Linked DNA regions of Homo sapiens: region 2 is linked to region 1. A link means that fine-mapping ties the variant in region 1 to the expression of a gene that starts in the linked region. Tissue or cell type: lymphoblastoid cells. Region 1 holds a variant in brackets; the other region holds the start of a gene. All regions are shown on one strand. Distances are between the middles of the regions.

Region 1 (5,145 bases):
GGAGGCCAGCACCACTGCGGTCAGCCTCAGCGCGTGGCCGTAGCGCCGGCCGCTGGCCGCCAGCGTGTGCAGGGTGGCCCCGTAGCACAGCAGCATGGCCAGCAGGGGCAGGAAACAGCCCAACAGCGCCAGGCAGGTGAAGGCCGGTTGCCAGTGGGAGGCCTGTGCGTCCAGGGGCAGCGCGTCATGGCAGAGCACGCGATCGGAGCGCGCCAGCCGGAAGGTCTGCCGCTGCAGTGTCAGGGGCAGTGCCAGGGCGGCCGCCATGAGCCAAGCAGCCATGCAGAGTCCAAGGGCCAGGCGCCGGCCACGCAGGGCGCGGGCCCGCAGCGGGTGCACCAGGGCCAGGTAGCGATCCAGGCTGACGGCGGCCAGCAGCAGCACTGAGCCATACATGTGACCATAGAGTGCGGCCGTGGCCAGGCGGCAGGCGGCCTCCCCGAAGGGCCAGCGCTGGCCACGCAGGTGGTAGGCGATCCGCGGGGGCAGCGCCAGGGCCAGCAGGAGGTCAGCAGCCGCGAGGTTCATCAGCAGCATGGTGGAGGGCAGCCGAGGTGCCTGCGTGGCCAGCACCCACAGCGCCAGCCCATTGGCCGGCAGCCCCACCACCAGGACCAGCCCATAGAGGGCGGGCACCAGCCTGGTGGGCACCCAGCCCAGAAGCAGTGCCCGTGAGCTGTCCGGGAGCTCCAGGGTGTCACTGTCATTGGCACAGACTTGGCCTGGGTAGCCGCGGGGGGCAGGCAGGATTGAGGGCGTGCTGTCTGGGAGAGAGAGGGGACCTCAGTCAGCCCCTGCCTCGGCAGGTGACGAGAAGCAGCAGGGAGGGAGGTGCTCAGAGCCTGGGGTCTGCCCTGGTGGGAAACAGCTGGACATGACACTCAAGGGAATAGCCCAGCCCTATGGGGTCAGAGACGGGATACAGAGTGGGCTGGGCTGAAGCCCGCAACTTCCCGGCCTCCCCCTCCCCAGCTCCGGGCCCCCAGCTCCATCTCTGATGTAACCCCATCTCTGCACCCCAAAGCCAGGACCACTCACCATCACCACCTCCGGTGCTCCCGCTCTCGTCGTAGACGCTGGGGGTCTGGGTGCCGCCAGACAGGCTGAACCCCAGCACCAGGGGCCACAGGAGCAGTCGCCCCCACATGACTGCACTCAGGCTGCTCTGGGCTGTGGCCTCAGGCTTCCTGCCTCGCCGGACCCTGAGCCCCAGCTTCTGGAGCCGAGGCGGACGAGCAGATCGCGCCGGTAGAGATAAACCAGGAAGGCTGCCCCTGCCCCCGCAGACCCACCAGGGCCGCTTGCCAGCCAGCCCGTGGGAGGACTGGAGTGTGGGTTATGGAGACCGGGCTGCCCCACGTGGCTATATCCAGTGTGGCGCCTCCCAGGGACCCAGGTGCCAGGCCAGCAAGATGCAGGGGGGGGGGTCCCAGCTGCAGCCAGCACCCCCGGTCCCTGACCAGCCCAGGAAGCATCTGCGGTTCAAGTGGCCACTTCCTGCCAGCCGCTCACATCTGCAGCCACTGTTCTCACGACAGCCCTGTCCTCACCCCAATCCCCACGCCCATCACGGGCTCTGGGCCTTTCCTGAAGTCACCCCCCGACTTCCTATCTCTGGTGAGCAGGATAAGAAGAGCCCTGCTAGGCCAGGCACGGTGGCTCACGGCTGTAATCCCAACATTTTGGGAGGCCAAGGCAGGCAAATCACCTGAGGTTGGGAGTTTGAGACCGGCCTGACCAACATGGAGAAACCCCATCTCTCATAAAAATACAAAAATTAGCTGGGCTTGGTGGCAGATGCCTGTGGTCCCAGCTACTCAGGAGGCTGAGGTGGGAGAATTGCTTGAACCCAGGAGGTGGAGGTTGCAGTGAGCCGAGATCTTGCCACTGCACTCCAGCCTGGGCAACAGAGCGAGACTCGGCAAAAAAAAAAAAAAAAACCAAGGATGGGCGCCTCCCAGAGGGTAATAGCGAGGGTCCCTTCAGACCCCCAGAGCAGCACGAGCCCAGCGTCAGGGACTCTGGCTGAACCTCGAGAGCCCCTCAGCATCCTCGGCTGACCCCATACTCACAAGGCACCCCTGTATGAGTGCCTCACTTCACTCTTGCCCAGGGGACACACGGGCATCTGTAGGGGAGACAGTGATGCTGGGGACAGCACCTGCCGAGGACCGGGGGGACTTCGGGGTGTGTGGCTCGCCTGCTCTGACCTCTGACCCTGAGTGAGGTGGCCAGGTTGAAGGGTCCCCAAGCCAGCCTCCAGGGGGCCTCCCTCCTCTAGCCCCAGCACATCCCCACTCCTGGGTACCATTGGATGGGGGCTCATCGGGCAGATGAAGAAACTGAAGCTCGGGGGGGTACCCCTTCCCTCTTCTGCACAAGGCCCCTCAGTGTTGTCCCTCCCTGCCTCAGAGAGGCCTCAACCCGT[C/T]GTGCCCTGGGGGAGTCTGGTATGGGTGGTTCTGGCCCCAGTGTGCTCAGCGCTGGGCTACAGGGGATGGGGGACAGGGCTTGGGGGGGTCTGGGAGCAGGAGGGCCTAGTTGGGAGCCATGAGGATTGGGGAAAATAAAATGAACTAGGGATGGGGGAGGGAGGGGTCCAATGTGGCCGTTTCCTGCCTGGGGGAGCCCTAATCTCATCACACACTTGAGCACTCGGGGATCAGCCAGGAAGTGACTGAGCAGAGTCTTGGACAGAGTCAACACCCAGCTCCAGGAGGAGACACTGAAGCCTGGAGAGAGAGTCTAGCTGGGGCAGGGTCTCAGAGGCCCTGCTCCCATTTCTGGGCAGTTTCCATGGCCACCAATGAGAAAATCAGCTTCACGTCAATGACTTGGGGAAAAAGGTGGCTGAGGACACCCTCAGCACACGGAAAACCCACGCCTGGGCTCCCCCCTCCACCGTCTTCTCTGTGAGCAGAGTGGGAAGCTGTGCAGGGGAGGCTGGGCACACCGGCAGTCCAGTGATGCTGGGGCAGGGTGGTTTGAAGATGATGCATCAAAATAGTGATGCACGACCGGGCGCAATGGCTCACGCCTGTAATCCCAGCACTTTGGGAGGCCAGGTGGGTGGATCACGAGGTCAAGAGATCGAGACCGTCCTGGCCAACATGGTGAAAACCCGTCTCTACTAAAAATACAAAAATTAGCCAGACATGGTGGCGCACGTCTGTAGTCCTAGCTCCTCAGGAGGCTGAGGCAGGAAAATCTCTTGAACCCAGGACGCAGGGGTTACAGTGAGCTGAGATCACACCACTGCACTCCAGCCTGGGCAACGGAGCGAGACTCCGACTCAAAAAAAAAAAAAAAAAAAAAAAAAAGCCAGGCACAGTGGCTCACACCTGTAATCCCAGCACTTTGGGAGGCAGAGGCGGGTGGATCACCTGAGGTTGGGAGTTCGAGACCAGCCTGACTAACATGGAGAAACCCCATCTCTAGTAAAAATACAAAATTAGCTAGGCATGGTGACATATGCCTGTAATCCCAGCTGCTCGGGAGGCGAGGCAGGAGAATCACTTGAACATGGGAGGCAAAGGTTGCAGTGAGCCGAGATTGCATCATTGCACTCCAGCCTCACTCCAGCCTGGGCAACAAGAGTGAAACGCGTCTCAAAAAAAAAAAAAAAACATAGTGACGCACATGCCCTTATACTCAAGGGTTCCATGTCTAGGAATTTCTGCCAGACACACGCACAGGAAGATGTCCTTGGGAGGATATCCACACAGCAGCACAAAGCAGGGAGGTGCCCGCCAACAGCCCCTCCCCGGGAACAACACGGCAGCACAGGCTGTCGGGGGAACCCCAGCAAGCAGAGGTGACGATGACATTGCCCCTGTCAGGCACAAGCTGTACCCAGGCGACACTGCCCAGGTACTTCCCGGAGGACGCTGGGCGCGACAGCTTTGGAGGAGAGGAAACCATGTGTCTGTTTTGTACTGTTGGAGTTTTCTGTGCACTGTGTTACTTTCCATAAAAACTTTTTTTTTTTTTAAGATGGAGTCTCGATCAGTCGCCCAGGCTGGAGTGCAATGGCGCAATCTCAGCTCACTGCAACCTCTGCTTCCTGGATTCAAGCAATTCTCCTGCCTCAGCCTCCCCAGCAGCAGGGATTACAGGCGCCTGCCACTATGCCCGGCTAATTTTGTGTATTTTTAGTAGAGGCGGAGTTTCGTCGTGTTGGCCAGGCTGGTCTCAAACTCCTGACCTCAGGTGACCCACCTGCCTCAGCCTCCCAAAGCACTAGGATTATAGGCATGAGCCACTGCACCTGGCCAAAATATTTTTTATTTAGAGATGGAGGTTCGCTCTTGTTGCCCAGGCTGAAGGTGCAATGGTGCCATTTCGGCTCACTGCAACCTCTGCTTCCTGGATTCAAGCGATTCTCCTGCTTCAGCCTCCCGAGCAGCTGGGATTATAGGCACCCGCCACCATGCCTGGCTAATTTTTGTATTTTTGGTAGAAACGAGGTTTCATCATGTTGGCCAGGCAGGTCTCAAACTCCTGACCTCAGGTGATCCACCCGCCTCAGCCTCCCGAAGTGCTGGGATTACAGGCGTGAGCCACCACGCCCGGCCAAAATCTTATTTTCTTAAAAAGGGCAGACAGCCAGGCCGGGCTGTTTCAGAGTGGTGGCTCATGCCTGTAATCCCAGTGCTTTGGGAGGCCGAGGTAGAGGGATCGCTTGGGCTCAGGAGTTCAAGACCAGCCTGGGCAACATAGTGAAATCTTGTCTCTACAAAAAATCAAAAAATGAGGTGGGAAGATTGCTTGAGCCCAGGAGGTCGAGGCTGCAGTGAGCTGTGATTGCACCACTGCACTCCCACCCGGGTGACAGAGTGAAACTCTGCCAAAAAAAAAAAAAAAAAAAAAAAAAAAGGCAGCCTTAAAAAGTAAGGGAATTCTGACATATGCTACATTGTGGATGAATCTTGAGGACATTATGCTGAGGGAAATAAGCCGGTCACGGAAAGACAAATCCTGAGTCATTCCACTCATGGGAGGTCCCTGGAGTGGTCACCTCCATAGAGACAGGAAGTAGAATGGGTTGGGGGGTGCCAGAGGCTGGGGGAGGGGGATTGGGGAGTGAGTGCTTAAGGCCACAGTGTTTCAGTTTTGCAAGATGGAAGAGTTCTGGGCTGGGTGAGGTGG
Region 2 (5,145 bases), 140 kb before region 1:
CGGGGAAGTGCATCCCAGGCAGAGGGGACAGCTGGCACCTTGGCCCAAGATGGTGGTGGTGGGTGGGGGTCTGATGTATCTCAGGAGCAAATGTGGCCAGAGCCCAATGGTCAAGGGGGAGGCGGAGGGCTCAAAGGCTGGCCTGGAGGCTGAGGAGTGGAGGTTGGCTTAGGTAGGAGTCAGAGTTGGCCTGGAGGGGCCCGGAGGGGTGGCATGGGGCAAACTTCGATGATGAGGGTGAGATCAGATGCTGCTTCTTGGTGCTAGATTTTTGCACCTCCATGTGAGTTTAGCAGCCTGTTTGGGGTTGGCCTGGTCTGAGCTTGGAGGCAGGCAGCTCCTCCTCTTCTCCAGGCAGGAGAGACGGCTACTCAATCTACTCCGGCCCCTGCGCGCGTGCACGCACACACACACACCAACACACCATCATCAGTTACGTCCCCTCTGGGTTGTGTGCTCAGTGGCAGCAGGTCCTGTATGTCCCAGGGTCCTCATTGCCCAGCCCAGGGCTTGGTGCTGCCTGGGTGATCAGTGTTGGGTCCAAAGGCTGTTGACAGGGCTGAGAAGCCCCCAGAGGACCCACATCCCTAGGGGCAGGGAGGGGGCAAGAGAAGCTTCCCTTGAGTTTCCTGGAAGGATCAGGAGTTGGACTGGCAAAGGAGGCAGGTAGAGGAAGACAGAGATTAGGCAGAAGCAGGCAGTGGAGTAAGAACAGGGTGTTGGAGGAACTAGGCTGAGGTCTCTGCCATCAAAGCCAGAGTTTAGATTTGGTCTCAATAAACGGGAAGCCCTGGCTGGATGTGGTGGCTCACACCTGTAATCCCAGCACTTTGGGAGGCTGAGGAGGGAGGATCATTTGAGCCCAGTGCTCAAGACCAGCCTGGGCAACACAGTGCGACTCCGTTTCTAAAAAAAAATATATAAAAATTAGCTGGGTGCGGGCTTGCACCTGTAGTCCCAGCTACTCTCCAGGAGTCTGAAGCTGCAGTGAGCTGTGACTGCACCACTAAATTCCTGCCTGGGCAACAGAGCAAAACTCTGGTCTCAAAACATAAAAATAAAATGTAAAATAAACAGGGAGCCCCGAGGATTCCGGGCAGGAGGGGGTGTGGTCAGCACTGGAATTTTAGAAGAAGGGCAGTTGGTAGCTGGGGGAAGGGGGTTCCACACTGGAAGGAGGGGGTCCAGGACTTGGACATGGTATAGGATGTGCCGCCTGCCAGTGGGACCTAGGACAGCAGGACCATCACTGAGGTGGCCACACGGGGAGGGGCAGGAGGGGACACCCTGCTCTTGGAGAGAAAGGGGGTGCCCATCCACCCCTGCTGTATGAAGGGGAAAGGGGGACTCTGAGGCCCAGCGAGAGAGGGGACGGGCCCAAGGGATTTGTGGACAGTGGGGGTGGGGGAGAGGGGAGCAGAGAGCACAGATAGGGACCTGGGGCAGATGTGAGTCTGGGAGGTTCGACCCCTGGCTAGACTGTTTCCCCAAAGGGTCCTCTGCTCCTTGGGCTGTACGCACTGCACTGGGCACTAGATACAGGCCAGGGCTTAGGGCACGGCGGCGCCTGTGGGATCGGGGTTGCAGGCGGCGTCCAGACCCAGGGGCCCCTGGTGAGGGGCGGGCCCGGGGAGGGGGCCATAAGGGGCTGGCTGGGGAGGGAGGGAGGGAGAGGCCAGGGAAGGGACAGGTTCCGAGTGGACGCTGGGTGGAGAGGAGAGGGAGAGTGGGGGCGGTGGGGGGTCGGGTCCGAGGCGGGGCTGGTGGGGAGGGGGGCATCCGGGGGCGAATCCGGGTAGGGGGTGAGGAGGCGGGTTCGGAAGGAATCGGGCAGGGCCCGGGTGGGTCCGGTGAGTAAGTGAGGGGACGATCCCCGGAAGGGATCGGGGCGGGTCGGGGTCCGGAGATGGGCGGAGCAGGCGTCCCGGGAGGGTGCGCCCAGGAGCGGGGCGAGCGGGGCGAGCGGGGCGGTCCCGGAGACGAGGCGGGTCCGGGGAGGGGGCTGGCCCGGGGCTGCCCCAGCTTGGCCGGGCGCGGAGCGGGGCGCATGGCGCCGGGCGCACTGCGCGGGGGCTGCGAACAAAGGGCCCCCGGCGGCGGCGCGAGGACGGCCGCGCTCGGACCCTGGCCCTGGCCCAGCCCTGGCCCGGCCCCCTCCCCAGGCGCGGCGCCCCCCAGGAGCCGAAAAATGAGCGGCGCCCTGCTCTGGCCGTTGCTCCCGCTCCTGCTCCTGCTGCTGTCGGCGCGGGACGGCGTGCGCGCCGCGCAGCCTCAGGCCCCGTGAGTATCCTCCGGCGACAGAGGAGGTCGGTCGCCTTCTGGGGTGGGGGTCGCGGGTACTGGCTCAGAGTGTTGCAGCGACCTGCCCAAGGCCACACAGCCTCCGCGCTGGGCTGGACCTGGCCTCTTGTTCCCGAATCGTCTTGAGGAGGGGGCGCCCTAAAGTTTCCGAAGTGGCTCTGTGGAGGTACAGGGACTCCCAAAAGCTAAAGGTGCTGAGGTCAGCTCCCCCCGCCCCACCTCGCCCCCTTCGTGTGACCCGGGCTGTCATCATGGGTGGCGATTTCCAGTTGTCCAAGGTATGAAGGTAAGAGGAGCGTCTTGGCTGAGAAGTGGGAGGAGAGTGCGAAGGGGCACTTTCCCGTGGGTGGGCGTGGTGAGGGAGGAGGAAGTGTTTGTTTTGCTTCTACATTTTTCTAGAGGTTTGCTTGCAGGCTTCTGGTGGGTTGACAGCGGGGAGAAGGTGAATTAACTAACTGCTGGGGAGTACTGCTAAGTTGGCTTCACAGAGAATATTTCTAAACCTGGCAAGTTCGGGTGAGCTCTGCAGGGCTGCGGGTTCAGGGGGGCTGCCCTGGTCTGCACAAGACCAGCCTTTTAGTCCAGCTGGGCGTTTAGAAGGCGGCTTGTTCAAGCAGCCCTTGTTTAGGAGTTTCCAGAAAACTGGTAAGCAGTGAGACTAGGTGGGTGTCGTTATTTGCAGTGAGTAGTTGGTCCTTGCTGGTCACAGTTTTAAAAGCAAGACAGTCTACTGCGCTCTGAGCATCCAGACTTCCCTCTCCTAGGCTTCGTGAAATCGGAACCCTACAAATTTTCATCCTAATGCTTCTTTCAAAGCTGGCATCCCTTAGAATAGTGGTTCTCAGCCCTGGGGGGGATTTTTGTCTCCCTGAGGCCGCTGGGAAATGTCTGGAGGTATTTTTGGTTGTCACAAATAGGGAGAGGCATTTGGTGTTGGCATTAAGTGGGTGCAGGCCAGGAATGCTGGTAAACAGCTTTCGATGTGCAGGTCAGCTTCCACTGCAAGGAATGACGCGGCCCCACATGACAGACCTTGGCTCCAATGAGAGACCCTGCCTTATACAGAGGTTTTTGTTTGTTGTTTGTTGTTTTTGGGGTTTGTTTTTGTTTTTGTTTTGAGATGGAGTTTTACTCTTGTTGCCCAGGCTGGAGTGCAATGGCACGATCTTGGCTTACTGCAACCTCCGCCTCCCAGGTTCAAATGACTCTCCTGCCTCAGCCTCCTGAGTAGCTGGGATTACAGGCGTGTGCCACCACACCCGGCTAATTTTTTGTATTTTTAATAGAGATGGGGTTTCTCCATGTTAGCCAGGCTGTTCTGGAACTCCTGACCTCAGGTGATCCACCCACCTCCGCCTCCCAAAGTGCTGGGATTAGAGGCGTGAGTCACCGTGCCTGGCCCGTTAGAGAGTTTTAAACAGTTCTCCAGGGCGTTTTCCTCTGACTAAAGTCACCCTGTGATCTTACCATCTGTTAAGTGACATGGAATCCCTGTGCTGAGAGACACACTGGGGAAGAGATGTCCCCAAATGACCGACCTGGGATTCCAGATTAGCTGGCCTCTAAGCCAGGGGCATGGTTCACCCAGCCCAAAGGATCTCGTCTTAGGAATAGCTCTGGATGCCCACTTCTGTCACCTGAGAGATTTTTGTGTGAGGAATCTCTGATCCCAGAAAGCAGCACAGTTTGCAGTTGTAAGAGCAATTCTGTCTACACTGACCCAGACATCCCTTTCCCCAATCTGGGACCTTCTGAGACCAGCAGGATGAGAAGCAGTGTTGGCCCAGATGCTAGGGGTGGGTCAGGTGTGACAGTGAATGGCTGGCAAGCATCCCAACAGCTGGAAACAGCTGCAACTTCTGAATGGCAGGGAAACTTAATTTGGTGATGTCAGTTTCTCTGGGCAGTTGGATGAAGACTTGAACCCGTATTGTCAGGAGTTTCAAAGGTGACCAAGCAAAATGAACACGTATTCCTTACTCTCTCTTCTACACTCACCATGTACTATATGTGAGGCCCGTCTAAACTCTAGGGATCAGCTGGGAGCCAGACAGAAAGAGTATTCCCCTTTTAAAGGATGCCACATTCCAGTGCTGGAGCTGGACAGGACACCTGGACAGGGTAATTGCATGTCCTGGTCAGTGCTGGAGTTATGTAATACACAGCACATACCCAGGGTCTTGCAAACTCCAGTTGGTCCTAGAGTTGGACAGCACATGTGTGATCCCAGGGGACTGAACTCTGGTAATTATTCAAGGCAGATGTAGCACACTATGATCACAGGGTCAGTGCACACTGTGGCCAGGGCTGCAGTAAACAACCCAAACCCATTGTTCGTGTGCATGAAACAACACAAACCCACTGCGTCTTTTGAGATGCAAAATTGGTAATGATGTTTTCATGAAGTTTGGTTTATCAGTGAGTTATTTTATGGATCTTATTTTTGGTATCTTACTCAAGAAATCTTTGCCTAATCTAAGCATGCAATGACTTTCTCCTTTGTTTTCTTCTAGTGTTTCTACAAGTTTTACTTCTTCAATTTAGATCTGTTACTAAGATTAACTTTGAGTTAATCTAATTGCATGGTGTGAGGTAATGTTCTCAATTCATCTTTTTGCATGTGGATGTTGGGTTGTTCTAGAGACACTATTGAGGCCAGGTGCAGTGGGCCTGTAATCCCAGCACTTTGGGAGGCCAAGGTGCGCAGATCACTTGAGGTCAGGAGGTCAAGACCAGCCTGGCCAACATGGTGGAACCCAGTCTCTACCAAAAATACAAAAATTAGCTGGGTGTGGTGGTGCACGCCTGTAGTCCCAGCTACTCTGGAGGCTGAGGCAGAAGAAT

The links. PIP is the estimated chance that this variant, and not a neighbour inherited with it, causes the effect.
Region 2: CPAMD8 starts here. The variant in region 1 is fine-mapped to the expression of CPAMD8 in lymphoblastoid cells (GTEx, PIP 0.92).

What each region holds. Positions count from the first base shown.
Region 1 is chr19:16,885,192-16,890,336 of GRCh38, reverse strand. It overlaps F2RL3 (F2R like thrombin or trypsin receptor 3), which reads right to left and starts at 1,338. Exons shown (of 2, transcript NM_003950.4): 1 at 1,039-1,338; 2 at 1-764. The coding sequence starts at 1,147. RefSeq lists enhancers at 64-663, 3,754-4,254. The variant C/T (reference allele first, on the strand shown) is at 2,429.
Region 2 is chr19:17,023,686-17,028,830 of GRCh38, reverse strand. CPAMD8 (C3 and PZP like alpha-2-macroglobulin domain containing 8) reads left to right here and starts at 2,021. Exons shown (of 42, transcript NM_015692.5): 1 at 2,021-2,280. The coding sequence starts at 2,189. RefSeq lists an enhancer at 941-1,849.